Linked DNA regions of Homo sapiens: region 1 is linked to region 2. Evidence: fine-mapped expression QTL. A gene starts in region 2. The other region holds a variant in brackets. All regions are shown on one strand. Distances are from middle to middle. Region 1 holds the start of LOC105374076 (a long non-coding RNA gene). Region 2 holds the start of KALRN (kalirin RhoGEF kinase).

Region 1 (15,925 bases), 550 kb after region 2:
GCAATGGAGCAAGACTCCATTTCTAAAAATTCTAACTTTAAAAAATCTGTGAAATTGATTAATAGCACTTAAACTCCAACAAGGTAGACTTTGCAGTCCAGTTATGCCCCACCAAAGGTGGTCAGTTAATGTGAAGTTCCCTGCCTGCTCTTTGTCTAAGTTCTGATACTTCTATAGGGCTGAGTACAGGGTGTTTCCAGCCTGAATCATCCCCAGGATTGTTCAAGGGGTCAGGGTTCTCTTTCTAGTTTCCATTGGTTTTCTTTTTTCTTTTTTTTACCAGACAGGGTCTCACTCTATTACCCAGGCTGGAGTTCAGTGGCATGATCAGGCCTCACTGCAGCCTTGACCTCCCAGGTTCAAGTGATCCTTCTGCCTCAGCAACCCCCAAGTAGCTGGGACTACAAGTGCGAGCCATTGTGCCTCCATAGGTTTTCAGAGGCCCCAGCACAACCTCCTGTCTGCACTGGCTCCCTTCCCTCAGTCTCTATTCCTAACCTACCCTGGGTCCTTTCTACAGTCCACCAACAGCAGGTCCATCTGGCTCCGTGATTTCCCAAGAAATAATGGCTTAATCCTCTCATAACTTTCTTTTGACTTTAACCCAGAGGATTGAGATAATATTTGATATATTTGAGCTAAAAATTCAAGTTTTTCCTTGGCTTGTACCTCTGGCACCTCTCCATGACCTATTCTCTGTCATTAATTCTGTGGTACTTGAAGGTAACATTTGGACCACATTATGGAGATGGGCTGACCTGTGTGATGGGGGTTGTGCTGACACTGTGAGTGTTGGGTGTATATGAGGGGACCACTCTTTAATTCAAAGAAGAGCAGGACAGAGAGGAGTTTCGTGGAAACTGCCTCAGGCCTGCTTTGTTCTGGTTGAGATGTCCTGCCTGTGGCTACATCCATCTAATACTATTTAGGACATGAAAGGGCTTAGAATCAAAGCCTCAAATAGGAACATGTCAGGGCAAGCCACATCCTTCTCTAAATACAACTCAGTGTCGTGCTGTCTCCAAGTAGAACTGAAGCAGGAAGACCCAGGTGTCCATGGAAAGAGCTGGTCTCTCTGGGTCCCTCTGCAGAGATCCTGCATTTTTCCCTTTTGTAGCCAGCCTGCTGTGACTTTGCTTATGTTAAATGCCAATTTCAACAGCATGTTTTCATGCCTGCTGGTGCCCACTGTAAATCTGTGACATCTACATGATGATGATGCCCCTTATCATCCAGAGGGGAAGTCAGGGGCAAACTTGAATATGCTCTTTGGAGCCAATGAACCAGCTGATGGAGCTCAGAGCTAAAATGAGAGCCTCAGGATTTGATCCCAGAGAAGAAAGGCTGCCACTGACTGCTTTCTGAGAAGAAGCTGGAGATGATAGAGAGGAGGTTACCCCAGCAAACAGAATGTTCCCCCAGAGGAAAGATGGTGCAGTTTTCTTGCTTACAGCTAGCTAAGCTGAACACTTTCCCCCTAGAAGAACACGGGGACCCAGGAATGACATGCACTGAATGTGACTTGAGGAAAAGAGAAGGCAAGGCAATGGTCTGGACAATCTTGGGATGTGCCCATCCTGTCTGCTCAGGGAAGGGCAGAGATGGGAGGACCTCAAAGGCCTTGAGGAGCAGCCCTTGCAGGCCACAGCTCTAGGAGCTCTCAGCAACAGGATTCTGCAGGACAGAGCAGTCAGCACCCTCCTCTCACCGCCACACTGCCTTCCCTGTCTCACTTGCTCCTTGAGAACAACTCCTCACCGAGGATCTATGTGGGGGTGAAACTGCAGCCTTAACCCAAACCCTGCAAACAAGCATGAGAAGTCTTTCCATTTACTACTAATTGCCATTCTGAATACCAGCCCTCTGCCCTATGGGCAGTTACTGAACAGCCTGCCCCTTTCTTTGCCCTTGTGGTAGGACTGGGTTGTCTTGTTTTCTCCCCGTATCCACTAACCCCAGCCAGAATCTTGATTCTCAGATTGTGCCCACTTGCCTTACTTTCCACATGGGCCTCTAGGCCACAGGAAGTCTGGCTCCTCACCTTTGTACACAGGAGGGCGAACAGATAATTGCCCCGTTGCTTGCCCCCAGCTGCAGGGAGGTGGCCCAGGCTGAAGACCCATCTCAGTTCAGAATGTTCCAGTGTCTCCTGTCTCATTTCCAGTAAAACGAAGTCCTTTCTGTGACTGCAAAGAGGCTCCACAAAACCTGTTCTGGAGCCTATTCTCTGACTTCATCTCCTATGTATTCATTTCCTGTTGCTGCTGTAACAAATTACCATGAACATGGTGGCTTCAAACAACAACACAAACTCATTATCGTACAGTTCTGTGGGTTGGAAATGCAACATGAGTCCCCATGGGCTAAAATCACAGTTTCAGCAATCAGGGCCACATTCCTTTTTGTAGGCTGTTAGGGAAAAGCTATTTCTTGCCTCTTCCAGCTTCCAGAGACCACCACACTTTCTCCATCTTCAAAGCCAGCAATGTTGCATCTTTCTGATCCTCCTTCCATGGTAATGTTTCCCCTGGGCCACAGTGGGAAAGGTTCTCTGCTTTTAAGAACACCCACCATTACACTGTCCTCACCAGAATGATCCAGCATAATCCCCTTGCCTCGAGGTCCCTAACAGAATCACATTTGCACAGTCTCTTTTGCCATATAAGGTAACATATTTATAGGTTCTGGAGAGGAGGATGTGGACATCTTTGGCGGACGTTATTCTGTCTACCATTCACCTGACCAGCCTGCCTCACTGAGCCATTACCAATCAAGCCATGCATACGCTCACCTCAGGGCCTGATCTTTTGTTCCCTCTGCTTGGAACACACCAGATACCCCAGATCCTCAGAGACTTGGATGTCTTGCTGTCACACTTCCTTCTGCTTGAATGTCACCTGATTAGAGAGGTCTTCCCTAACTCCCACCCTCTCCCATCACAGTGTATACTCCCTTCTCTGTTTTACTTTTCTTCATTGCATTTATCACTACCTGACATATTTGTTAATATTCCTCTGCAAATCCCCCCTACCAATACAGGGATTTTGTCTACTGTGTTCATTGCCCTATCCCCAGCATCTAAAACAGTAGCTGCCATGTAAGAAGTTCTCAGTAAATATTTATAGAAAGGAGGGACGGATCATGCATCAGGGACCTCTGCAGAGTTCTTATGTGAAGGACCAGGCTCAGCATGTAGAACGGTAAAGGAAACTGGCTTAAGCTTTAGCAGGAGGACTTCAGGATGGGAATGGGGAATCATGTTCTGATGCTAGGAGTCCTGATTGAGGAAGTCTTCTCTGGGGACGTATGGGTTAAGTACCTCTCATTTATTTGGACTGGTTGAAGGATGAGCAGGTCATTATCCACATTCCATTATTGGCAGATGTACATCCTTTCTATTATTGGAAATCCTCAATAAACTCACCTGAGTTACATCAAGACAAAATCCACTTTCCATTTGACTCATCAGAAACCTCTGCACTGTACTCCGTGAATGTACATGCTGCTGCAGCTGCTATTTGTGCCTGTAGGAGGGAAGGTGGCGTTGGCAGAATTAAAATGCCATCCCACATAGTGGACACTTAGCAATCATAAGTTTACCTTAATTGAAACTCAGAGTGATAGACTGGCACTCTTATACTGCCCTACTTTGGGAACACTTTGACCTACTTAGAGGTAAACGTTTTTGGAAGTAGATAAAACCTGGAGTGGTTTGTTTTTAGCAATTCCAGCTGCAGCCATCTTTCACTTTGATAAATAGCTCATCTGCCCCTGAGCTCAGGCCAGCTCAGGCGGCTGCTCAGTACAGATATCCAGGAACCTGTCCTTGTTGCCAGCAGTTCTTCCTCTCTGTCCTCACAGAAGAGGAATGTTGGCCATTCTGGGGAGACATCTGTGTCCTCTCAGTATGGCCTGAACCACCCCCCTACCTTGAACCTGGTTCAGACAAGACAGTGATCAGTAATACTTCCTGGAAAAAAAAAAAAGAGGGTGGCTGCAGGCTGAGCTGGGGCCTCTCTTAAGGATAAGTGAGACAGCTAGAAAGAGGCAAACAGGTGTCAATTGGGCAAGTACAGAGGAACACATTTAAAGGTCAGTAGGTGAAGACATATGGACTGAGCTCAGTAATGGTTCAGTCATTAGAGTCCAGGAGCTGTCTGTCACCAAGTGGATGATGGTACCCACAGGGCCAGCAGTGGTGCAGTGGTTAGACCACACTAAACAGAGATAAGAAGGAGAAGAGATTACTATGCGTGATTCTGGCAAGCACACTTTTTCTGTACACCTTACTGTTAAAATAACGCATATTACCTGGGAATGGTTACCCACACAGATATTATACACTTTTGAAAAAAAACATATTTGGGCTGGACACAGTGGGTCATGCCTGTAGTCTCAGCACTTTGGGAGGCTGAGGTAGGATGATTGCTTGAGGCCAAGAGTTCAAGACCAGCCTGGGCAATGTAGTGAGACCCCATCTCTATAGGCAGGTGTGGTGATGCATGCCTGTAGTCCCAGCTACTTGAGAGACTGAGGTGGGAGCCCATGATTTTGAGGTTACAGTGAGCTCTGATTATGCCACTGCACTTCAGCCTGGATGACAGAGCAAGACCCTACCTCCAAAACAAAACAAACAAACAAACAAACAAACAAAACCCCCCACCATATTTGGAGTTCAAATTAAATATAGAAGCAATGTACACATTGTACCTCCTCTCTCTAATTGAAGTGTTTCTGGTTACTGATGACTATTGTCTCAATTCCTCTTTTTCACATAAAGAAGAAACCCCAACCTTATGTCCAGTACTATTCTGTTTCCATTTCTTTTTTCTTCCACAGAAAATTAAACCAACTTCTGCTAGAATTCACCCTGTTCTTCTTTGTCTTTTCTCATGGAACAGGCCTTATTTAATTTACATTTTCCTTATAAACTCCCATGTATAGGTTAGCTTAGTGACTTACAAATAGTAAATATTCCAAGACCAATTATTTGTTGAATAAATGATTAGTACTTGGAAAGAATCTTAGATGTTTAGGCCACAGCCACAAATGGAGGCCAGGGCTTGGTAATTTGGGAATATTGATTAGCCATCCCGATATCAGCAATCAGGCAGTTCATAGATCAGAAATCTACACAGGGAAGATGAGAATTAAGGAACCTGCAGTTAGCAACCAGGGAGCATGGCAGGCAGTGGAAGAATGGGTCAAGGGACCGATTGTCAGAGTTTGAGAAAGTAAAACCATTTGTGTTCAAGTGTTTCCTAAACTCTACAATGCAGGAACTCATCCACAGTGTGAGTGGCCTTGGGCCCTAAAGTCCGTGGTTCTCAGCCATGACTTCACATTGAAATCCTCTGCAGAGCTTTTTAAAACCCATAGATTGGCCGGGCTTGGTGACGCTTGCCTGTAGTCCCAGGTACTCGGGAGGCTGAGGCAGGAGAATCACTTGAACCTGGGAGGTGGAGATTGCAGTGAGCCAAGATGTGCCCCTGCACTCCAGCCTGGGTGACAGAGTGAAACTCCATTTAAAAAAAAAAAAAAACCTATAGAATCCAAATATGGGGGTGAGTGCTACAGGTGAGAATCACCCCTGTGGGGAAAGGAGAGCAAGGGAATGGTTGGAGTGGAGTTAAGGAGATCAGGGCCTGGCCTCTGCACTCACCAGGAACCATGATCACGGCTCACCAAGCCTATGCTCTATAAAAGGTCACAGTAAGAAGGGTCTCCTATGAATCTCTAGGCCTGAATTGGGGCATGGTTGCTGTTCCTTCTTTCTCTATCCTGAGCTTTAAGAAATGTGGGGAAATGATTGTGATTTAGTAAAATTCTTTTCCTGTCCATCTGAAGAGAATAACCCTAAAGGAAAAAAAAATGGCATATGTCTGTTAGTGTAAGAGACAGGTACCTGAGGTCATGGTCCAGTGTTACTGAAGACTGTGGTTAATGTGGAGGGAGAGGCAGTCACACTGGTGCCTGATGTCAGGCCTGACATTGTGGTACACCTGGCCTACTACATCTGCAGGCTGATACCAGAAATTCTTTGGGGTTCACTGTTGTTGGAAATGAGGGTGGGACATAAAGTGGTCACGTAGGTAGGCAGAAAGCCTTATTCATGTAAAATGGACTTAGGCTGCAGGTATCACTGAAGACAAAGTCTGCCAAAAATATAAATGAGACTCAGCCATCTAGTTGAAAAGTAAGACTACTTTAAATATATTGCTTATAGCTCAGGAGCTTTTAGCCTGAACTTTGGGAGTGGGTGGGTAGGTATGTGAAAACCCTGAAATAATAGACATTCAACTGGCTTACACAAAAAGGAATGTATAAGCGAGGGGCGGGCACAAGTAAGGTCCAGGAATAAAGCTTTAGGAAGAAGCCTCTCTAGCTATTCAAATGATATCATGGGAAACCTACCTCTCTCTCTCATCTTTTCCCTGTATTGGCTTCATTCTCGGAGAGCTTCTTCCCACATTGTTATAGCAAAATACCCCCAGCTGCTTTAGGCTAACATTCCATCAACTTAGAAATCTTGTTGAAAGGGATGGCTGTTTTCTCAGATGTTCTTGCTAAGATCACAAGGTTTATGCTCATTGCATAAACTCGAGTCATGTGCTAAATCTGAACCAATCCCTGTGGCTGCCTGGCCACACCCAGGTCATGGGCTTATCTTTGGAGTAGAGGGTGGACAAGGGGAAGATGTCAGCCACACCCAGAAACATGGTCTCCAAAGGGAGGAAGGCTGGTTCCTCAAAGACAAGTCAAGGTGCTGTTACAAAAAGAAGAGGGCACAAATGCCAAATGGGCAAGGACAATGTCCGAATCTCGAGTAGGTCTCCATGTGTTTCTGTACCAACAACATCAGCATCACCTGGGAACTCATAGCAATGCAAATTCTCAGGCCCCACCCCAGACCTACTAAATCAGCAGCTCTGGGAATGGAGCCTAATAATCTGTGTTTTAACACACCCTCCAGGTGATTCTGATGTATACTTGAGTTTGAGAACCACCGCACTGCACCAGTGGTTTTCAAACTATGCTGCGTATTACAGACACCTGGGGAACTTTTAAAATACTTGCGCCCAGTTGCACCCAAAGTCAATTGATCTAAATCTCAGGGTGTGTGTGGGGGTGGGTGGGGAGGGGGGACTCAGGCAGCAATGGCCTCAGACTTGGTTCCACCTCAGAGCCTAAAAAATGCTAATGCCTAATATTTTTAAATGCTTCCCTCCTGATTCTTATCAGCACCAATGTTTTAAAATCATATTCTCCACCATCCCTTCTAAATTGTCTTGAGAATATTAACTTAAAACATCTGGATGCAGGCTGGAGAATCTAGGCATCTATTAACCCTCTCAACTAATAAACCTGGTCACATATCTGATGTGGATTCACTTTTCTCTCACATTCATGATGAGTCTGTCCTAGTAGCTAGCTTCAGAAGGACTGAAATTGTTTTTGTTCACCAATGTAGACCCAGTACCTAGAACAGAGCCTGACACAGAGTAGGCACTCAGTAAGTATTTGATGAATTAACGAGTAGGTCCACAAACAGTTAGTGTCCCCATGTTGTTTGAGATTTCCTTGATGGCCAGGTGTGGTGGCTCACACCTGTAATCCCAGCACTTTGGGAGGCCGAGGGGGGCAGATCGCTTGAGCCCAGGAGTTCAAGACCAGCCCAGGGAACATGGCAAAACCCTGTCTCTATTAAAATAATAATAATAATAATAATAATAAAGGAAAGGAAAGGATTTCCTTGTTAGGTTATAGACATTGGCTAGTCTCATTCTGGAAGGCATGTAAGGATGGCAATGGGACTCTTGGGTTATTGGTGTCTAACCCTAGAATGAATCTCCATGATGGCCAAAAATGTGTTGACCTTGCCAACTTAAGATAGGAAGAGGTTCCTAATGGTTTTATGCCTTTAAATTGAGAGTAGGATGAATTCCTGGGTTATAAGAATTAGTAGAGGCTGGGTATGGTGGCTCACGCCTGTAATCCCAAAACTTAGATGTGCATGGTGGTGCACGTCTGTATTCCCAGCTACTCCAGAGGCTGATGCAGGAGAATTGCTTGAACCCGGGAGGCAGAGGTTGCAGTGAGCCGAGATCGTGCCACTGCGCTCTAGCCTGGGTGACAGAGTGAGACTCTGCTCAAAAAAAAAAAAAAGTATCGGTGGAAACATGCCCAGTGGATCCATTTTGCCTATAGTGGACTACTTTAGGGTCTACTGGTATTTGATTTCTAAAGTAAGAGTTGGGTCTTTCTCAAACATGTAACTCAAGCCAGTTTCAGCAGGATGAGATGTCATTAGTCTCTTGCAAAGAATTGTGACAAAAAAGTGATCCAGTGTTATCTGAACACAAAAACCAAGAGGGAAGATTTGAGTAAAAAACAAACTGGTTATTCCCCATGAAATTTTGAAGCATCTTTGAATTCCCATCATAATGCCCCCAAAGTGTAAAAAGAGAGGGATTGGGTGGGTAAACCAAATATTGAACCTTGGACCATAGCATCCATACTATGGATCACAAGCAAATAAAGTTAATTTTTACAGACAGTTTTGGTCTGGGCTTGCAAGAAAAACAAAATAGGTATTGTCTTTGGTGACATGGAAGAGAGAACTAAATAATAGTGCTGGTTGTTGTGGGTCAGAACTGGAACCCAGGATAACTATGTGAGGATTAAGGATCCTGCAGTAATTCAGTCTGGCAAAATGAGACTGACCAATTATCAGGATGGTCAGTGAATCAGGAATCTTGGGTGCAGACAACATGAGCTATTTTTTTTTTTTTTTTTTTTGAGACAGAGTCTCACTCTGTTGCCCAGGCTGGAGTGCAATGGTGCGATCTCCGCTCACTGCAACCTCCGCCTTCCGGGTTCAAGCAATTCTCCTGCCTCAGCCTCCCGAATAGTGGGGATTACAGACATGCATCACCATGCCCAGTTAATTTTTGTATTTTTAGTAGAGATGGGGTTTCACCATGTTGGCCAGGCTAGTCTTGAAGTCCTGACCTCAGGTGATCCGCCCACCTTGGCCTCCCAAAGTGCTGGGATTACAAGCGTGAGCCACTGCGCCCAGCCAACATGAGCAATTTGAACTGTAATTTCTCTGTTTTTGTATGTGTTAGAAAGAGCACCAGAGATTCATTTCCTGCTTGACAGTGACGTTCTTATGTAAACCTTGCCAAGAGAAACCATCAGGGAGATGGCAGTAGCAGAACTAGAGGGTAGATTTTTGACTTTATGTTCTACTGTTCCAAAGGGGTGAAGCTTTTTAGAGCTTTTCTTTAGAATTAAACCATTAAAGCCTCATCATAGTTTATTAATTCAGTTTCTTCAAAGGTAAAACAGGACACTACTTTACAAGGTTTTTTTATGAGGATAAATGAGATAGTATATGGAGAACATGGAGGAAACTGCTTAGCATATAAATGCTCAATAAATGTAAGCTATTATTACTCATTAGGTCATGCTTCGATCATTTACTGGTATCCCAACCATGTGGCAGATGCCTTGGCACATTTTTTTTGGGGGGGTTGAGCTGGGGGGGATGGGGTCTCACTCTGTTGCCCAGGCTGGAGTGCAGCAGCACAATCATGAGTCACTGCAGGCTTGACATCCCCAGGCTCAAGTGATCCTTCCACCTCAGCCTGCCAAGTAACTGGGACCACAGGTATGGTCCACCAAGCACCGCTCATTTATGTACTTATTCATTTATTTTTATTATTTGTAGAGACAGGGCCTCCCTGCATC[G/A]TTCAGGCTGGTCTTGAACTCCTGGGCTCAAGTGATCTGCCTTGGCCTCTCAAAGTGCTGGGATTACAGGCATGAGCAACCATGCCTGGCTGTCACATAGATAAATAAAGCACAAATCTAAGCATGGTTCCAACTGGGAAAGGAAGCCCCAAATCCTGGTAACTTTTAAAAGCCTTGTCCCATGAGTGTGTTTCTTCCAGGAAGGCATTGGTTACCTGGGTGATCAAGCTTCTGTTTTTCATTCCTCCCACAAACTTCCCTTTTTTCTGATGAATGGGCCCTCTTTATGAGTGTTGTGTGTTTCCAGCAGGCCCTTTGCCCTAAAGCTGGACACAAAGGAATGGGAGAGACACCCTGTGAGTAATACAGTGGTTCATGGAAAGGTCCCACTGATGTGGTCCAAGTGGGCTTCAAGGGGGTTGTGGAAAGCAAGCTTGGCCTTGAAACATGAAAAAGATTTAAAAGATAGGGATAGGGATATAAGTAAAGGAATGATAGGTCTACTGGGCATATTGGGCCGAGGGGATGGTGAATGGAAGTCTTGCACCGTAAGTAAGATGTTCGAAGTTTCTCTGTAGGCATTCATTCACCTGGAAATATTAAACTTCACCTCTGTAACAGGATGTTAGCCCAGAAACATGGCCTGAGAAGGGAGGAGGACTGGTTCCTCAAAGACAAGTCAAGGGGCTGTTACAAAAAGAAAAGGGGACAGTTGCCAAATAGGCAAGGAAAAAGTCTGAATCTCAAGTAGGTCTCAGTGTGGTCCTATACCAACATCAGCATCACCTGGGAACTTGTAGCAATGCAAATTCTCGGGCCCCACCTCCTACCTACTAAATCAGCAACTCTGGGAGACATCCATAGATATTTTTAAATTCTACCATCGGCTGTATGTGGTGGCTCACATCTCTAATCCTAATGTTTTGGGAGGCTAAGGCAGGAGGATCACTTGAGCCCAGGAGTTCAAGACTAGCTGGGGCAACATAGCAAGACCCGAGACCCTGCCTCTATTAAAGAAAATTTTTTAAAGAAAATCTACAACCGTGGAATATAGGAATTCTTTTACATTTTTTTTTTAAATGGGGAAACTGAAGATAAAAGGTGAAGTGACTTGCCTAAGTTCAAACAGCTAGCAGGTGGCAAAACTGAGCTTTGAAGGTTGGTTGTATGATTCCAAACCCAGAGTGTGTTTTCACGTCATTACAGTTGGAGAGCTGATCAATATGAGGCACTGTTATCATTATTAGTAATCAGCATTACACGGAAGGAAAGGAAAGGGTTGGGGACGGTGTTTTCAATACAGAGGAGGCTGTGGGGAGGGAACGGGTGAGGCTGCGAGGAAGAAAAGGGCATCCTTGAGTCTTGGAGCATCTAAGTCTGCCCCTCTCTTACCTCTTTGGCCCCATCTAGTTGTATTTTTTAAGCCAACGCCCATTGTGGTGGCCTTTGAAGGGAGGAAGTTGCACATAAGGAGTACCTACCTGTTTGGTGCCAAGGGCTCAAACTCCACCCGTTTGCCCCGTGCCCACAGCGTTGGTGCCACAGGCAGCGTTACATGAGGCTCCGGCCGCTGCTGGCCAGGTCTCCTGCCCACAGCTGGACCTTGGAACTCCGCCCCTTAGGCCCTCCCTCCCCGCCTGGCCCCTCCCCGCTTCCCAAGGTGGCAGTGGCTCCCAGTAAGTCAGAGCTGCGGCCGCGGTGCGGGGAGAGCACAGCGGGGAGGGCGGGAGCCGGCTCTCGGGCGGCGGCGCTGAAGTTTCCTTCCCGCCGCGCTCTCACCCCGGGCTGGCGCCCCGTGCCATGCGGGAGCGCTGGGGCGGCGGGGCAACATGAAGGGCGGCGACAGGGCTTACACCCGAGGTCCCTCTTTGGGGTGGCTCTTTGCTAAGTGCTGCTGTTGCTTCCCGTGTAGAGGTGAGTGGCTGTCGGCGGCCTTGGTGCCTTCTGTTAGCCAGACTGGTCGCGCTCAGCGCGAGGGAGGGTGGTAGGGAGGGAAGGGTTGGGGAGGCCTCTGGGGTAGGCGGATGGGGCTGGGGATCAGGAGGGCGGCGAAGTGAGAGAGTTTGCTGCGATCCGTTTCACAGTTTCCCAGACAGAACGCGCGCGCTCGCTGGCTGGCGGTGAGGTTCTGACTTGGATGCGGAGCTGCTGTTTGGGAACTCAGTCACCTAGCAGCGACTTTGGATGTCAGGGCGCCAGCCTGCTAGGGAGTGGGATGCGGACGCGGGGGTGGGAAGGGGACGCAGAGCCGCGTGTGTCCCTATAGTGGCGGAGAAGTACCTCACCTCTCATTTACACATGGATCTCAGCTGCGGGATTAACGTGTGACTCCTGGCTACAGGAATGTGTTTGACACCTGTCTGTACACCAGGAACTATTTTTGCCAAGTGACAATTTTCTCGTGGGACTGGAGCACATTTTTTTCTGCCTGGGTTTTCACAGGCCAGCGTGGATTTGTAGCTCCGGGCCGGAGCTTGGCTCATTAATTAACAACTCTCTCTGTGCCCAGTTAGGACTGTATTTAATTATTCTGCTAATCTTAACGTCGTGGAAGAGACTTGCAGGAAGCAACCAATTTCCCCCAAAGCAGCCGGCGAACAGGAGGGCGAGAAGGATCACAGAGGGAGGGTTCTCAATTGTGTGGCTTCTTCTGAAAAAAAAAATCAGAACCTTCCCAAATAGGATAAGCAGATGCTCCTAAGGCTGTTCATGTCACTTTAACACACGCTAGGATAGCGGGGGAAGACTGTTTTTGTGTGGGTAGAAATGAGAATGTAGCCCCCTACTTGACATTTGCCCTTTTAAAAAGTTTCACCTTTTGGGCCTCTGGCCTCCACCCCCATTTACAATACCCCACCCAGTCTCCCATCCCATCTGCTATGCAAAATCCTAATGGAACTTTCTGGCTGAGTTACTGGTGAATAAACTTCATCCAAGCCACCTTTCAGCATCCTCTGTGCCACAAACACACAACATAGCCCTGAGAAATTTTCTATCCTGAGCAGATATAAGGTTACCAAAACTAATTAAATCTGAATGACTTTTCCTGCGCGTCATTAAGGTCATAATCTTAGCATCAGATGGTCTCAATCTCTGTATTTAATTAGAGCAGCCTGGAACCGTGTGGTTTTGAGCTCTAGAAACCAGAATTCAGATGAAGAAGGAATGTGAGGGGCCAGGGACCCTCTAAGTCTGATTCAGAAACATTCAAAACCAAGGCTGGGAATTGAGGGAAAGGGGGAATAAAGCGCGGAGGAAGCAGGAAATGGCCAAGGGGAATCTGAGTGGGTGGGTTCGCTCGAAGGCTGCCCTGCTTTCCCCGCAAAGAGTTTCTCTGCAGGATTTCTTGGGAGTCCGTTTCCTGTCAGACAGAATGTGGGGGCTGGGGTGGTGCTTATCTGAAGTCCCCACAGCTGCCTCCTTGAGTCCAGATGTGTGACAGCCCTGGCTGCCCTTCAGGGTAACTCTCTGGGCGTCTTGCTGGCCCTTGCTTTGTTGAGGAATTGCCCGACTTTCACTCTCGCTGTGATGCAGGGGAGGGCTGGGGAGCTGGCTCCAGGGCCTGGTAAGTGCCTCCTGCCTAGGGCCTGTGAAGGCAGTGGCTGCTGGCTCCGTGGCTAGGAGAGGAGGCGTGCGAGTGGCTATCGTAGGAGCGGGAGCTGAAAAGGCTAGCGACCCTCAGATGAAGACTGAGGGAGTCAGAGGTCCAAGCAATGAGACCAGTTTAAAAGGGAAAAGAAGGGTGGCAAGGTGGGTGCCCGGGGCCTTCTCCTGCTTTACTCCTCACTCCCCTAGATCTGAAATGTGTGAAGATGAAAAACGGGCTCATCAGAGGACGATGGTGGGGGAGGTGAGTTAGCCACTCTCCAAAGAAAACTCCTGCCTGTGGCTAGGCTGGGGGTCGTGTCTGAGGTGTTGGGCATGCCCTGAGGCTCCCTCAGGCTCACTCTAACCGAAAACAGTCTCCACTCAGCCTGTAGGCATCAATTTGAAAACAGATTGAAAAGATAAGGTCTGTATTGAGCCTGAGTGCATGGCCCAGAGTCCGTGGACTCTTTGGGAAGAGGCTTGCCCAATTGCAACACCCAAAAGGGCTGAGGGGAGAGTCTTGAGGCTGTCTCTCAAGTGGAGGGTGTGCACTGCAGGGGACTGACTGCCTCCCTTTTCAGTTGAACCAGTTCCTCTGGTCTTAGGGAAAATACAATGGAAAGGCAACCTCCACACTCCACCTTGTAGATAAAGGCGGCCGGTTGTTTGGTCTCTATCCCTTCTCTCTCAGGGAGAACTTGGCTGTCTCCTGCGGCTTGAGTAGCTTGACTCTGAAGCAATGACTCAGAGCCCACTGCTGTGGTTCCCAAGGCAAGGGGACTTGACCATCTGACTTCCAGTCATGCAGGATTTAAAGGATACCTCCTTCTAAAGTCTGAGGAAAAGGACAAAAGTAAAAGAACCAAGAGGAAGTGGAATGTTTTGGCTATTTTTGACTTGAAGCTAAGTGAGCTACATTGGGATTTCTCTGGTGAATTCTGAGTGGTTGTAATTGTCATCACTAGGGTCAGAGTCAAGGATTTAGATAAAGTACCTGTGTGGTCTTTAAATATCACATTTGAGGAAAATATGGATGAATTTCACTGAACTTATCTTTTGATTTGGAAGAGTATGGAAAGCGACTATCTTGTATTTTTCCCTCCACCCCCACCCTCCACTTTTTTTTTTTTTTTTTTTTTTTTTGATACAGGGTCTCACTCTGTTGCCCAGGCTGGAGTGTAGTGGTTTGATCATGGTTCACCACAACCAGGATCTCCTGGGCTCCCACCTCAGCCTCCCAAGTGGCTGGGACCATAGGTGCATGCCACTACCCCAGGCTAATATTTTTATTTTTTGTAGAGACAAGGTCTCACTATGTTGCCAGGCTGGTCTCAAACTTCTGGGCTCAAGTGATCCTACTGCCTCAGCCTCCCAAAATGCTGGGATTACAGGCGTGAACCACTGCACTTAGCCTTTTTGGTTCTATTGAGTATGAGTACAGAAAGCAGGTTTGATGAAAGATGATTTTTCTTCCCTATCTTGAAACTGGTGTTGAAAGGCAGGAAAACTGAAAACCAAGGATAGAAAGGAAATAGATATCGGGTAAGAAGGAAGAAAGAAGGCAAATGCATTTATAACTGCCTTTTTGAAGGTGAAAAACAACCAAAAGTGAGATAATGGCATGCATGTGTCTAAGGGGTGATAAATCATTGATGTCACACTCTGTGGGGAGTTAGTTTTGGGATAGCTTTGACTAGCTAGACTGTCCTTCAAGCCTGAAAAAGTGGGTCAGTTCAGAAAAGATTTCAAATCACCTGGAAATTGCTAAGTTATGTATTGCACTGGAATTTGTGATCAAGGAGCCCAGAGATTTTTCTGACCTTTCTAGGTAGAAGCCAGTTTTAGAGACTTAATTTTGTTTTGAGATGGAGTCTCGCTCTGTCGCCCAGGCTGGAGTGCAGTGGGACAATCTTGGCTCACTGCAACCTCTGCCTCCCAGGTTCAAGCAATTCTCATGCGTCAGCCTCCTGAATAGCTGGGACTACAGGCGTGCACCACCATGCCCGGCTAATTTTTTGTATTTTCAGTAGAGACGGGGTTTCACCATTTTGTCTAGGCTGGTCTTGAACTCCTGACCTCAAGTGATCCACTCCCCTCGGCCTCCCAAAGTACTGGGATTACAGGTGTGAGTCACCGTGCCCAACCAAGAGACTTAAGTTTCTAGTCAACTTTCATTAGCTTTAGGTATGTGGACAAAAGTCCCCTTTTGAAAGCTTTTCCTGATTACCATCCTCCACAGTGTGCATGGGATTTATTTATACTTGTTTATTGCTGTATCATTGTCCTTGCATCCCAAGCCCACGTGCCATTGTGTCTTCACATTTAGACTGAGATAGTCCAGCCACCTGAACATCTCAGAGGTAAAGAGAGGAAGGAGGTGGGACTTACCCAAACTGAATCACTTCACTGGGGAGGTGCAGGGATTGGTTTCTATGATTCTTTCTTTACTTGGGTAGTCCTTCCTGCTTGTCTCTGATGTCATGGGCTTTGGGTAAGTGTATGGGGATTCACAGGGCATCCAAAGGCATTTTTATCTATAACTTTGTCTTATCCTACTTTGTTCCAGAATTCTCAGCCAGAAACC
Region 2 (15,925 bases):
TGTGTCTTTCCCTCAGCTTTTTAGCTATGCACAGCTGCTCCATTTTGAAAACAACAGAAAAAAATAAACATTTGGAAACTTGATCATCCTGTCTAGCTACTGTCTTCTTTTCTTTCTTTCTTTCTTTTTTTTTTTTTTTTTTTTTTTTTTTTTTGAGAAGGAGTCTCGCTCTGTCGCCCAGGCTAGAGTGCAGTGGCGCGATCTCGGCTTACTACAAGCTCCGCCTCCCTGGTTCACGCCATTCTGCCTCAGCCTCCCCAGTAGCTGGGATTACAGGCACACACTACCACGCCTGGCTAATTTTTGTTGTATTTTTTAGTAGAGACAGGGTTTCACCATGTTAGCCAGGATGGTCTCAATCTTCTGAACGTGTGATCCGCCCGCTTCGGCCTCCCAAAGTGCTGGGATTACAGGCGTGAGCCACCGCGCCCGGCCCTTCTTTTCTTTTTCACTGCTCACTCTTCATGAAAAGATAATTCCTCTTTGCTGCTTCCATCCCCTCACCACACACTGGCCCCTGTCCTGCCTGTGGTACGGTTCTATCCTTTGCTTTGCTCCCTCACCACACACTGTCTCCTATAACCCAGTTCTATGCTCCTCTTTCTCTACTGAAGCTCGCTTAAAACCTGCCACTTACCCAAATTCTGTCTCCATGTCTTAATCCTCTCTGCCCCTTACTTCCCTGTGGCATCTGACCTGTTTGACCCCTGTCTCACTCCTAACACCCTTTCCCCTAGTCTACATGGCCGACATATTCCTGTGACTTGTCTCTCTGGCCTATTGTTTCTTTCAGTCATTGGCTTCACTTCCCCACTTTGCCTGGCCAGTTGGCAAGCTGTTGTAGAAATTCAAGACCATAGAGCTGAAGGCTGGGCTAGGATGGCATTAGAGGGAAAAGAGGGCAACGGATGTTCTCTCAAAGGAAAACACAGGATTAATGATAGCATGGATGCAGGAAGTGGAGGAAGGGGAGGAACCCCAGAAGTCTTTCAGATTCTAGTCTGTGAAATTAGAATAAAGAAGTCGGAAAAGTGGGGAGAGGTGCTGGTTCTAAGGCACGTTTGATTTGAGTAGAAAGCAGGATATACAGATAGATAATTTCATCCAAAGAGGAAAGTTAATGGAAGTGGATAGAAAATCTTTTATCTCATTCGTTCTTGGTGCTTCAACCAGCTCTTAGCTCCTTAATCAATATTCCCAGCTGCCAAGCCCTCTCTCAGCTGCTCTGCCAATTGGACATCACCATAGTAATTGGACATTACTAATTGCTGATTGGACATTACCACCTGGATGCCCATCATCACTTCAGACTCCTAACATAGGTGAGGAAATGTGTGTGATAGGGAAACACCATGGGAACCCGCCTAGGACTCATGAATTCTGGGGTCTGCTGTGGATCTTCAGGCAAGTCACTTTACTCTCTACTTTTCAATCTTCTTGTTGTTGAAATGAGGGGTTCGATTAAGTAATATTTTAATCACTTTCCTCATCTTTCCCCAGATTGTTTTCTCCTCTCTCTCTAGAGGAAAAATTTCTCCTTTAGAAGCCGATTTTTCCTGTTATGCCGTTGTTTTCTCTCGGTTACCTAGTGGTTCTTGGACTCCTGCTCACCCTGGCTCACTCTTTCCTGCCCACACCTGCTTCTCTCCATATATAAGGCATCAACACATGCTATTATGTTTCCTTTCTCATTGCCTTCCACAGCTTTCCATTTCAGTCACAGCCACAGCTTCGTTGAAGTACTTCTACACTATTCTTTGGACTCCGAACTCCTTCTTCCAGTCTCCTAGGCTCATCTACCTTCTGAAAACACTTCTTCCATCTTATCCCATCCTGTCCCTTCCTTCCTTTAAATCTCTGAGTAGGGGCGGAGCAAAGGGGGTGTATGTCAAGATGCCTTGGGAGCTGTTTCTAAATACATAGACCTGAACATAGCTCTTCCTTCCTCCACTCTGGCATTCTTATGCATCATGGGAAAAAGTTTCTCCAGCTGATGATTTTCTCCCTGTCTCTCTCTCTCACATCATTGTAAAGAATCCACATTATGAAAATTTAAATATTTTATGGACTATAAAAGTCCCCTCAAGATAACTGGTATTTCCTTGTAAGCACATGTAGCTTTATCCCATTTACTTAAAAAATTGATTTTTAAAACAGTTTTATTGTGGTATAATTGACATTTGACAAATTGCATGTATTTAAAGTGTGCAATTTGATCAGTTTTGACATAAGCATACAGCCATAAAAGCCATCACTGCAGTCAAGAACATATCCATCGCCTCCAAAAGTTATGCCGTTCCCATTTATAACTCCCCTCTCTCTCCCTTCAGCTCCCAGTCTCCGACTCTGGTCATCTCCAGACAATCACTGATCTGCTTTCTGTCAGTATAGGTTACTTTGCATTTCCTAGAATTTTATAAAAATGGAATCACCTAGAATATACTCTCTGTTGTCTGACCTCTTTCACGCTCCATAATTATTCTGAGATTCATCCAAGTCCTGCATAGTATTCCATTGTATAGATATATCACAATTTGTTTATCTGATTGCTTGTTGATGGATTTTTGGATCACTTCCTGGTGTTGGCTATTATAAATGAAGTTGCTATGAACATTTGTGTGCAAATCTTTACATGGATATATGCTTTTATTTTTCTTGGGTAAATACCAAGAGTGGAATGACTGTGTCACATGGTAAGTGTATGTTTACCTAGTTAAGAAACTGCCAAACTGTTTTTTGAAGTAATTGTACCATTTTGCATTCGAAGTGTAAGAGAGTTCCGTTTTTGCATCCTCTCCTCATCCTCACCAGCACTTGATATGTTCAGGCGTTTTAATTTTAGACATTCCAATAAATCATCACATCTCATTGAGCTTTTAGTTTGCATTTTCCTCATGACTAATAGTATTGAGCATTATCTCAAATGCTTATTGCTGTCTGTATATCTCTAAAGTGAGTGTCTAGTCAAATCTTTTGCCCAATTTTAAAAGTTGGGTTGTTTGTTTTCTTATCATGAAGGTCTGAGAGTTGTTTATATATTCTGGACACAGAGAGATGGCAGTGTGAGACTGATTTGGCTCATCATTGTTGGTTTGGAGATGGAGGAAGGGAGACACAAGCTAAAAAATGCGGGTGTCCTCTAAAAGCTAGAAAAAGTAAAGAAGTGGATTCTCCCCTAGATCCTCCAGAAATGACACATCCCTGCTAACATCTTGATTTTTGCCCAGTGGGACTCATTTCAGACATCTGACTTCTAGAGCTGTAAGGTAATAAAATTGTGTGGTTTTTTTTTTTTTTTTTTTTTTTTTTTTGAGACGGAGTCTCGTTCTGTCGCCCAGGCGGGAGTGCTGTGGCGCGATCTCCGCTCACTGCAAGCTCCGCCTTCCGGGTTCACGCCATTCTCCTGCCTCAGCCTCCCGAGTAGCTGGGACTACAGGCGCCCGCCACTGCGCCCGGCTAATTTTTTGTATTTTTAGTAGAGACGGGGTTTCACCGTGGTCTCGATCTCCTGACCTCGTGATCCGCCCGCCTTGGCCTCCCAAAGTGCTGGGATTACAGGCGTGAGCCACCGAGCCCGGCCAATTGTGTGGTTTTAAGCTACGAAGTTTGTGGTAAATTTTTACAGCAGTCATAGAAAACTAATACAGATTTTTCAATTGTTCAAGCACCATTTGTAAAGACTACCATTTTTATACTGAATTCCCTTTGATTTTTTTTATAATTGAAAATCAACAATAGCAATTGATGATATACATATGGGTCTGTTTCTGGACCCCATTCTAGTCCATCAATCTATTTGTCTATCTTTACACCAATACCACATTGTCTGGATTACTATAGCCTCATAAATGTCTTGAAATTGGGTAGTGTAAGTCCTCCAACTCTCTTCTCTTTCGTTGTTTTGGCTTTTCTAGGTTCTGTTCATCAAATCAACTTATAAATTTCTACAAAAGAGCCTATTGGGATTTCATTGAATCTAAGATCAGTTTGGGAAAAATTAATGTCCTAAGGATTTTGAGTCTTTGCAAAATTCCATGACACAGTATTTCTCCCCATTTACTTAGATCTTCTTTAATTTCCTTCAGCAATGTATTTTATCTTTGAGTGTATGAGTCTTACATATTTTAAAAATCAGGCTAAGCCTTCAAATTTTTATTTCCATGCTACTATAGTGATGTTTTAAAATTTCAAGTTCTAAATCTTCATTGTTAGGTTATAGAAATACAATTTAATTTTTATATTGGTCTTATACTCTGAAATCTGGCTAAACTCGTTATTAGATCTACTAGTTTAAGAAATATATATTTCATGGAATTTTCTAAGTAGCAATCATACCATCTTTGAATACAGACAGTTTTACCTCTTCCTCTTCAATCTGGGTGCCTTTAATTTCTTTTTCTTATTGCACTGTACATCCAGTACATTGAATAGGGGTAAGAGTAGACATCTTACCTTCTTCTGATCTTAGGGAAAAAGCTTGCTGTTAACTATAGATTTTTGGTAGATGTCCTTTATTAAGTTAAGAGAGCCCCTTCTATTCCTAGTTTGCTGAGAGTTTTGTTCAGAAATGGATATTGGATTTTTGTCAAATTATTTTCCTGCATCTACTTAGATGATCACATGGTATCGCTTTTTTAAATTTAAATTTTATTTTATTTTTTGAGACATGATCTGACTTTCATGCCACCATGTCCGGCTACTTTTTGTATTTTTTGTAGAGATGGGTTATGCCATGTCGCCCAGGCTGGTTTCAGTCTCCTGGGATCAAGGGATTTGCCCACCTTGGTCTCCCAAAGTGCTAGGATTACGGGCGTAAGCCACCATACTCGGACTTGTATTGCTTTTTAAATATGGTATATTGGTTTCCTAGGGTTGCTGTAACGAAGTAGTGCAAACTGGGTAGCTTAAAATAATAGACATTTATTCTGTCACAGTTCTGAAGAGAAGAAGTCTGAAATCAAGTGTTAGAATGGCCATGCTCCCTCTGAGACTCTGGGGAGAATCTTTCTTTACCTCTTTCTAGCTTCTGGTGGTGGCTGTCAATTCTTGGTATTCTTTGCTGCTGCGTCACTCCAATCTCTGCCTCTGCCATTACATGGCATTTTTCCCTATGTGTCTCTGTCTTCTCTGTCTTCATATGGAATTTTTTTTTCTTCTTATCGGGACACCAGTCATATTGGATTAGGGTCCATCCTAGTGACCACATTCCAAATTTGATTATATCTGCAAACACCTTATTTCCAAATAAGGCCACTTTCACAGCTACCAGGGGTTAGGACTTTAACATACCTTTTTTGAGAATACAATTCAACCCATATCATGTGGTAAGTTACATTGAATAGTTTTCCAAATGTGAAACCAACCTTGTATATGTGGGATAAACCCACTTGGTTATGATGTATTATCCTTTTTATATATTGTAGATTTTATTTGCTAAAATTTTATTAAAAATTTTATTCCTAATAAATATTCCTAAGGAAGTAGTCTACATTTTTTTTCTTATATGGCCTTTGTTTAGTTTTGGCATCAGAGTAATGCTGGCCTCATAGAAGTAGTTGGGAAATATTTCCTCCTTTTCACTTTTCTGGAAGAGTTTTTGTGGAATTGATATTATTTCTTCCTTAAATGTTTCATAAATTTACCAAAAAACCCATGTGAATCTTGAGTTGTTTTGTGTGTGGGTGTGTGTGGGGAAAGCTTTTAAGCTACAAATTTAATTTCTATAGTAGATAAATAGCTATTTAAGTTAGCAATTTCTCCTTGAGTGAACTTTAGTAGTTTGTGTCCATCTTATGAAAGTTGTCAAATTTGTTGGCATAAAGTTGTTCATAATATTCCCTTATTATTATTTTTACATTTATAGAATTTGTAGTGATGTTACCTCTGTCATTCCTGCTAGCAGTAATTTGAGATTTTTCTCTTATTTTCTGATCAGTCTGGGTGGAGGTTTTTTTATTTTATTGATCTTAAAGAACCCACTTTAGTTTCATTGATTTTTTTCTTTTGTTTTCCTGCTATTTTATTGCCTTCTGCTCTGATCTTTTTTATTTCTGTTCTTCCACTTTGATTTCGTTTGCTCTTACAGTAGAATAGGAGCTTATTGATGGGAGATCTTTATTTTCAAAATAGGTATTTAGCACTATAAATGTCTTTCTGCTTCAGCTGCATCCCACAGATTTAGACTGCCTTAGCTGCATCCCACAGATTTTTATGTAATGTGTTTTCATTTTTATTCACTTTGAGATTCTTTCTAATATCCCCCTTTTAATTCTTTTTTTGGTGGGGGTGGCAGGGGACAAAGTCTCACTGTGTCACCCAGGCTAAAGTGCAGTGGCACAATCTTGGCTCACTGCAACCTCTGCTTCCTGGGTTCAAGTGATTCTCATGCCTCAGCCACCAGAGTAGCTGGGATTGCAGGCAAACGCTACCATGTCCGGCTAATTTTTGTATTTTTAGTAGAGATGGGTTTTGCCCTGTTGGTCAGTCTGGTCTTGAACTCCTGGCCTCAGGTGATCCCCTGGCCTCAGCCTCACAAAGTGTTAGAATTATAGGCATGAGCCATGGTGCCCAGCCCATCCTTTGAATTCTTAGTAGCTCATGTGTTATTTAGAAGTGTGTTATTTACTTTCCAAATATTTGGGAGGTTTTTCTAGATTCTTTTTGTTATTGATTTCTAGTTTAATTCTATTGTGGTCAGAGAACATACTCTGATTTTTTTTTAAAAACCAACTTAGGTATAATTTATGTACCTCTTTGCATGATTTTAATCCTTTTAAATTTATTGAGATTTGTTTTATGGCTTAGTGTATGGTTTATCTTGACAAATGCTACCTGTGCATTTGAAAAAATGTGTATCTGCTGTTATGGAGTGGAATATTCTATAAATGTCAGTTAGGTTAGGTTGGTTGATAACATTGTTCAAGTCTTCCATATCTTTACTGATGATCTGTCTCCTTATTCTATTAATTACTGCATTTTACAGATATTAAATTATCTGACTATAATTATAAATTTTTATATTTCTCCTTGCAATCCTATCAGTTTTGCTTCATGTACTTTGAAGCTATCTTATTAGGTGCAAACACTCTTAGGATTGTTACGTCTGCTTGATGAATTGAAATGTTCCTCTTTATCCCTGGTAATATTCTTTGCTTTGAAGTCTTCTTTGATATTAATATAGCCATGAACACTTAACATTTTAATAGAAGTTGCCAAATTTCCTCTCAAAAAAAGTTTGTGTCATTACATAAGGTGTTCCCCCTTTCTTGTCTATATCTTGAGATTTTGATATGACCCTTCCTCTAAACATGTAATGTTTCTTCTGAATTGTGATGAGCTAATGCCTTGCCAGGCCACTGGTTCTTTAGCTGCACAATGGTGGCAATTAATTAATAGCAGCTCTGCCATCACATATGTGTGTGCGGGGGTAGGGGAGCAGACCAGGGGTTAGGCAAAGGATTAAGGGGAAGGAAGATTTTGAAAAGACAAATGAGAAGTATTTTCATTGTCAGAAAAGGCATAGGCAAAGGGGCATCTTAAGCCAGTTCAAGATACTAGGGCCAGATGAATTAGATCTCAGGGCAGTGAACTTGTGATGTCAGAGTCACTACAGAGGTCTGATAGATGTACTCAAGGTTGGAGACAGGTCTGATAGGTGTATCCAAGGTTGGAAACAGGTACTTTTTTTTAATGGGTGAAAAAAAATTAGACTGTTTGTGTCAGTGAAGAACGTGATGCGTACAGGGAGCCAGAAAGTGTTCACTAAAAACTAATTTAATTCATTTTATTTGCTACAAGTTTACACAGTTGGTGGATCTGCATAGGCCCCAGTTGCCTTGGCCCCCAGAGAGAGGTGGAACCAAACAGGTTACTAGAGACAAACAGATCCAGGAGATTCTGTCTGATGGGTTGCAGTCATTAACTTCAGACCAGTACCTGGTTTTCCTATTAGGCGTGTTTTAACACATTAGGTCAGGCCACCACTTCTCCATCTGTCTGGATGAGGCAACAGCGAACAGCGCTCAGCAGACCTTATTAAGTACTCAGGTCTTAAAGACCCTCTGTTTGGTGGGCTCTGTAGTCACTAGAACCATAAACACACTACTGGCTAATTATTGTTTAATTATTGCTTAAAAACTGATGGGCACAATACAATCACCGCATTAATTACCCCATACAGCATCTGTTTTCTTTTTTGCAGCCATCCCCATTCCTCCCCAGCCCCTCTCCCCACTTTAATTGAAATTCAGCTTGCTGTAACACCTCCTTCCTCCTGGCCAACTGGATCTCTCCATTCACATGAGGGAGAACAAAACCGAGAAGGCCCCAGGGATTAGAGAGTTTTGACAGCTGTCCAAGAGGAGCGCGGAGATACGGGCCAAGTACGGAGGCAGGACAGAGACAAACGAGGGACAAGAGAGTGACGGAGGGAGGGAGAGATAGGCAGGGAGACATCACAGGAGCATTAAACTGGACAAAGAGTCACAGAGACAGGCGGAGATGTTTAAAGGGGCGCTGAAAAGGGGAAAAGGACGAGAAAAGATAAAAAGGAGAGAAACTGTGGCGAGCTGGTGAGGAAAATGTGAGAGGCTCAGGAGGGCAGGGAGACAGAAGAGAGCTCGTCAGGAAGGAGGGGAAGAAAGGCCGGCCTCTAGGGACAGGTCAGTCCAGCTTGGAGACCGATCTGAAGATCCAGAGAAGGCGGGCGGGCAGCCTGGTGGTCCCCTCACACACCTGGGAGTGGAGTGGACGGAGGAGGTGGCCGCGGGGCCGGGAGGAGCACCGGCGGCGCGAGCGGAGAAGCTGAGCGCGCAGCGCCCGGGCCGCAGAGCCCCCTGGACAAGCCTGGCGTGTGCCCTGCAGCCCCGGGCTCGCCCGGCGGCCCCGCCCCCTCCCTGGCCCGGGCTTTTCCTGCGGAGCTCAGGAAGCCGGCCTAGCACAGCCTCGAACAATAGCTCGGGACTCGGGCTCCGCTCCCCGGGAGGCCGGCGCGGGGCCGCTGGGACTGGGGGCGTAGGCGCCGCCGGGGGCCCGCAGCGAGCCCTCGGCCCCGGCCGGAGCTTCAATTCAGCTCGGCGCTCCCGGGGTCATTGTTGGCCGGGACTGAGGGAGCGGGAGCCGGGGGAGGAGCTGGGGAGGCGGCTGCTGCGGCGGCGGCGGCGGCGGGAGCCAGAGGGGGAGCTAGAGAGCGAGCGAGCGAAGGAGGGAGGTAGCGAGTGAGCGAGTGAGCGAGGGAGGGAGGAGGTAGGGAGACAGGGAGGGTGGGAGGGAGGAGGAAAAATAAAGAGGAGAGAGCGGAGCAGGGCTGAACAATAGAGACAGGCAGACGGGCGAGCAGGAGAGCCAGCTGCCGCTGCTGGGGGACAGCGGGCGCCCAGGCAGCCCGCACCCCGGCCCCGGGCCCCGGCCCCAGCCAGACAGCAGGCGGCCAGCGCCCTGGGGAAGGGGTACCATGGGGGAGCTGGCGGCAGGCACCCCCAGCCCGCCGCGCGCCTCCGCCTGAGGGAGGCTCAGCGTCCTCTGCCCCAGCCCCGCCGCCCAACGCCCGCCCTCGAAGCTCCGCGGCCGCCAGCTCTGCGGCCGCAGCAGCTGCGCCCCGCGCCCTCCGCCCACCGGGCGCCGAGCAGCCCTCGGCCCCAGGCTTCTTCGGCTCCCGGCTGCCCGCGGACGCCCTCCCACAGTCATGAACCCCCCTGAGGGAGCAGCGGAGGAAGGAGGAGCAGCAGACTCGGACGTGGACGCCTTTTTCCGGACAGGTAAGCCGGGCAGGGCGCGGGGGGCCAGGGCTGAAGGCTACTGCCTCGGACGCGGCGTCTCGGACAAGTTTGGGGAAGGAGGGCTGTTGCTGCCGCGTGCGTGTTGGGGGGCAGTGCCCCCTCGGCGTCGGGGCTGGAGTTGCCGAGATTCTGGTTGTTATGGCAGTGCTGGCTGCGTCTGGGGAGGGCGTGGGGGCTGGGAACTCCGCGCCCCTCCGCCTTCACCCCAGTTGCGGGAGTCTGTGTTGGGGAGGTGGGAGGCGGTCCCCTCGGACCGCCTTCTCCCAGAGCGCGGGGATGGGCGGTGTTGGCTCACTTTGCAGCGCGCCGCTCCGGCTACCGGCGTCCCGGCCCCTCCCTTGGCTCCCCCTCCCCTGTGCCTGTCAGCGGGGCTCCCGGCGGCCGCCCTGGGTCGGCACCCCTCCTCGCCGTCGGGGGCCCGGGGCCCTGATGTGCACAGAGGGGCGGCGGGGACCCGGAGCCGCGCCGGCTGCAGACTGACAGGAGTGGGGCGGAAGACATCGGTCTCGCCTGGTGCGTGTGGGGAGCTGGTCCCTCTGACTTGAGAGGCAGACCCAGCTGGGAGGGCGGTGGGCGCCTCGGACCTCCCCCTTGTCCTCCTCTTCAGTTCTGGGAACGGAGGAGCTATTCATAAGAATTACTCATTCCTGGAAGTGTGAGTTAGCGTCCCTCTCATACACACCCACTAAGTCTCTGCTTGCTGTGAGGTGTAGAGCCCTGAGATGTCTTTCTAGCTCTTTGCGCCCCTGCCATCGTCCAAGTCCCGGGTCCATTGCTCCTCCTGCTCCCTGGCTACACAGTCCCTCCCTAGAACCGGCACTGACCACCCTTATCTTCCACCACCTGTGGCCCTGTTTCTCTGATGGCCAGGGATTCCCCGTCTCCCTGTACCTGTGGCTTCCACCAGCTTCTGTGTGTAGCTCCCCATCTCCCCACATGTCTGAAACAGTTTTGTCTGGAATCTTTGTCCCAAGGAGTCCAGTAAGTTACCGGGGCCCCATGCATCTGCTCTCCCTTCTGGAAAGTTGGATTAGAGGACATGAACTGGTGGGGGTCAGGGGTCAGGTTAGCTCTGGAGGGTCTCTGCACATCCATCTGTTTCCTAACCCTGTTACCTTGCCCTGGAGGTCATCTCTAGGGAAGGGGGTGGGGTGCTTTGCGGGGGAGACTTGTGGCTTTGGAAGTCAAGACTTGATTGGCTCATATGTTCATTCTCTAGTTGATGTGCAGAGGAAAAAACTGGAGGACAGGAGCTGGTGCCAGGGTCTGGGGAAATCAGAGGGAGCCCTGTCATTCTATTCTGCTTCCCAGGTCTAAGCCTTCTTTCCTTTTCTTTCTTCCTCCTTCCTTCCCTCCTTCCTCTTCCGAGACATGGATTCTATTTTCTTTCTTCTCTCTCTCTCTCTCATACACACACAGCCCAGCACCCAAAAGCATGGATTCTAAAGAGGTGGAATCTAGGGAAAAGGTGGTTCTGGGGGCTAAGTGATATTCAGAAATACTCATTATGAGGCAGAGGAGGGGAGATATGGGAATTCATAACTGGGACTAGAAACAAATTGACCAGTCAATCAAAAACCCAGCTGACCCCCCTTGCCTCCCAACTGGGGCAAAAGTCTGCATTTTCTTAGCTCTGAGGGAAAAATCTTGAAGTGTGAGCCTTCCCACCTTCCCTTTCTGGACTCCACTTTTACCTTTTGGTGCCCACTCCTCTTTCCCCTTTCCTATCATCCAAACACTAGGTCCTGTTCATTTTCTGTTCCAGGCACCCGTAGCAGAGCTCAGTTCCTGGAGGCTTGCTTATTTCTGATAATAAATTCACACAGTGTTAATGGCCAATAATAGTCCAATGTGTTACTTTTCCCAGGGCCTTTCAAAACACAAGGTGTGGCACACATTATCTAACCCTGGCTCAAATCACAGAATAAATAGCAGACTGGGGTCAGTCTCCTGTGGGATTCCTATGTTGGGGATATTCTCCCTCCTCCTTGGGCAGCCCAGTGGCTGAGCTAAGTCTGATGTGCACTTAGTATCAGAGAAAGGTTAAGTCATTGGTGCATGAGGCTGGAAATGACTGATGACCTGTAACATGTTGCAAGAGGGGGTAGGTCAAGGACTACATCCACCCTGTGTGGCCCTCTATGCTTGGCTCACTGACTGTCACCACACTTCTGGTCTCTAGCCTAGGCTCTTGCTGGGGATTCTTCTTCTTCTTTTTATTTTTATTTTTTGTTGTTAATTTTTATTTTAGGTTCAGGGGTACATGTATGGGTTATATAGATAAACTGTGTGTCACAGGGGTTTCGTATACAGATTATTTCATCACCTTGGTAATAAGCATAGTACCTGATAGGTATTTTTTCTGATTTTCTCTGTCCTCCCACCTTCCACCCTCAAGTAGGCTCCGGTGTTTGTTATTCCTCTCTTTGTGTCCATGTGTTTTCATTGTTTAACTCTCACTTATAAGTGAGAACATGAAGTATTTGGTTTTTTGTTCCTGCGTTAGTTTGCTTAAGATAACAGCCTCCACCTCCATCCATGTTGCTGCAAAGGGCATGATCTTATTCTTTTTTATGGCTGCATAGTATTCCATGATGTACATGTACCACATTTTCTTTATCTAGTCTGCCATTGATGGGCATTTAGGTTGATTCCATGTCTTTGCTATTGTGAACAGTGCTGCAATGAACATATGCATATGCGTTGGTGGAGATTCTTAAGCTTAGAAAAGCCATGTTTCTAAACCTTCTCCCTTCTGATTTCCCATCTCTGTGGAATATAGCACTATACCTGATAGGCTGGATAGATTATAAATGTATTCTATTGAACAACTGAGAAAGCTTCAAACAAATTTTCAAAGTCCCTAGCACCAGGGTTACCCCTTTCTTTCTGATGGAAAATTTTGTATGCACAAGGACCAAACTGGAAATTGCTTTGTCAAAATTCTGGCATACTGTGCTTCTAATTAGGCATGTTTCAAATTATTCTGTCATTTTGGTTCCTTGTTTGTCCTCTTCTGATCATTTTGGTGTTTCAATCCCTTGACCAATTGGTTAAGCTAGATTCCCTAAATCTCACTTCCCTGTGTGCACATGGACACAGACATCCCACCCTACCCAGCCTACTATTCTAGATTGGTAGACTCCAGATTGTCTTCTTGGGAATTCTCTGTTCCAAGCCTGAGAAAGTGTGTTACAGTAATTTTATTGATCATAGTTATGAGGCAGAGGAGGGGAGTTATGGGAACTGATAACTGGGACCAGAAACCAATTGACCAGCAATCAAAAACAACTTTTCAATTATCCCTAGAGGCTTCTGCTGTCCACGGTGCTGTGGAACACAAAAGAAATATTCGAAGTGGTCTCTGTCCTCAAAGAACTTCTGAAGAAGATTGACATTTACTGTTCAATTAGAGATTTATTGCTAAGCGTTGTGGTGCTATAAGTTAAAAAGTTGGCAGAACTACAGAGGAGGTGGAACTTCGGGTGGTCCTTGAAGGATGAATGAAGAATGGGCAGTGGCACATGGGAGTTTGGGCATTGAAGAGCCTGGGCTGACATAGAGGAAGATGTAGGTTAGTGAGGAATGGGAAACAGGATTGGAGAAGTGGGGCAGGGTCAAATAGGGAGAGTCTTGAAAGCACAAGAGTGGAGATTGGATTTGATTCTGGGGCAGTAGGGAGTCATTATGGATTCTTGAACAATGACACATCATGAAAAATGTGGTGTTTGGAAAGGTTAATCTGGGATAATATGATTTAATAAGTGGAGAAGAGAAGGGTAGAATCTAGGGAGATGCAAAAGTGATCTGGAGGTGAGGGGGAGGAGCTTTGGTCTGGGTTGGTGGCAGAAAGGATGGGGAGTCAGGGATGCCATTGAGACACATTTTTAGAGGTATAAGTGTGGGGACTTGTTGATAATCTAGTGATGGGGGAGAGGAAAATGAAGCCCATGAGGAAAATGAAGTAGCTGGGTTGAGGAGCCTAGAGGACTGACAGTGTCTGACTGATGGACAGGTGTGGGCTGGTTGAAGACAGGACCTGGTTTTGCAGGGCAGATAATGTTGTTAGCTTTGGACATGAAGCATGGGGGGGGCGACTCAGGGAAATCCAGATGGAGTTGTTTTGTCAGCAGTTGGAAATGTGGGACTCAAGACAGGAGCATGGGCTGGAGGCTAGGGCTGTTGATGTTGATTTGGAAGGTTGGATGCAGCCGAAGCTTTGTGAATGCATCTGCTGTCAGAGGGAAGGAGTAGAGGAAGAAAGGGAAGGGTGAAAGTTAGATTTTGGGGTAGAAATTCTTATTGCAGAAGTGGCAGCAGAGGAGACTTGATCCTAGAGACCCCAGGGAGTCAGTGTGGGCTCTGATGTGATGACAGGCTGCAGACAGGTTGAGCAGGAGGAGTGCTGGGGCATGATGAAAGAAAGACCCTGTGCACTCCAGGAGCACAGGATTAGAAGAGGTGTTCAGAGGAGGGATTTGGGGTGGTGAGTGGGAATCAGCTACTTGCAGAGTTTATCAGTGAAAGGAAAAAGAGGTGTGTGCTTAGCCAGAAGGGACGTTAGTATCCAGAAAAGGAATTTTTGTTTTTTGTTAGAGTCACAGCAGGTTTGGAGGTGGCAGGGAGAGAATGTGTGGAGAGGAAAAATTGAGGAGGCTAGAACGAGTGTAGAGTTTGATACCTGAAGAAATGAGATAAGAATAGGTTCCCTAACAAAAGTAAGAGTTTAGCTTTGGTAAGCAGCAGAGAAACCTTTTTCTTTAAGGTGCAAAGGAAAAAAAGTAAGAAGATAAATGAAAAGAGTGATGTGGAGATATTTTCTACCTCTGTCCTTCTGTTGAGCATTGGTTCTGTGAATCTAGACATTTTCAACTGAAGTGTTTGCAGTTACTTGGGCTTCAGCCAATCTCAGACTCAACTCTGTATATCTTTCCAACTCCCCAAACTAGCTCTTCCTCTTGACTTTCTTAATTCTATAAGTGACACCTTCACTCTCCCAGTCATGATATTTAAAACCTTGGCATTGTCTGTGAGGACTCTCTTTCCTCCAACAAACCCTGTTGAATTATCTTTCATAGTTAGCTCTTGCTGCTCATTCACAGGGCATGGCCCCAGGCCAGGCCCCATATGCCCCCATGGACTCCTTTCCTGGCCCTCATTCTCATCCCTTGGAAGCTGTTCACTTAGCCCCACTCCAAATTGGACCTGCAGACACATTAAACTTCCTAAAGCACTACTTTCATCACACCACTGCTTGGTGCTTGAACCTTCAGTAACCCCCTAGTGCCTTCAGGGTCAAGTGTCGGCCTCACAGCTCAACTCCAGCCAGGCTGCTCTCCACACACTGCCCAAGGGCTCCTGCATTCACAGTCTCCTTGGATCAACCACCCCGGCACCCTCCAAATCCAACACAGTCTTTAAGACTTGATCCCTGCCTTCTTCTGGGAGCTTTCACAGCTCACGATGACAGCCCTTTGAATTACTCACTGTCTGTACTCATTTTCTCACTTCATTAGTATTGTATTGTTATTTAGCCTTTCCATACATGAAGGCTTGTCTCCCCCATTGAAGTTATTTGTTCTTTGGAGGTAAGAAAAAGGATCTTTTTAAAAGCTTGTGATTAATCAAAAAACACCCCCTCACAATATAAATCAAACATGGCAAAATATAAGCAGCTATTGAATCTAAGTGATGGTTTGTTTATATTCACTGTATGATTTCTTAAACTTTTTTCTTAAATAATAACCCCATCACATCTAGGCAGGGAACCTTAAACTATTGTCATGTCCAGATCATATAGAAGGGAGATTTGGGAATAACAATCTATGTTGGTATGCAATTCCTTGAGTAAATGTCACCGCCCAGTCTGTACATTGCCAGGTACCTAAAAAGGGAGGAGTCTCTTACTTCCTGAGCTTTCTTTTGCAGCAAAGGAAAACATCTCTTTTTTTTTTTAAGTTATGCTTGATGCTCCAGAGTGTAAACACGATGCTTAATTTAATGCTTGTTGTCCCTTCTTGATCTCCTCCACTTTCACCCATTATGAACTGGGCTTTTGGTCACATCATTTTTCAGGAGCCTTTGGGGGAGTATTGGGAAGACTTTGTGGTTCTGGAGAGGGAATGTTGTTAATATTTCTAATGCTATAT

Evidence for each region.
Region 1: its variant is fine-mapped to the expression of KALRN in thyroid (GTEx, PIP above 0.99).

Annotation. Positions count from the first base shown.
Region 1 is chr3:124,573,240-124,589,164 of GRCh38, forward strand. All of the region lies in intron 34 of KALRN (kalirin RhoGEF kinase), which reads left to right. It overlaps LOC105374076 (a long non-coding RNA gene), which reads right to left and starts at 11,320. Exons shown (of 4, transcript XR_001740872.2): 1 at 11,235-11,320; 2 at 3,425-3,524. RefSeq lists an enhancer at 4,460-4,749 and a silencer at 11,544-11,723. The variant G/A (reference allele first, on the strand shown) is at 9,754.
Region 2 is chr3:124,024,059-124,039,983 of GRCh38, forward strand. KALRN (kalirin RhoGEF kinase) reads left to right here and starts at 9,311. Exons shown (of 60, transcript NM_001388419.1): 1 at 9,311-9,755. The coding sequence starts at 9,683. RefSeq lists a silencer at 8,827-9,286.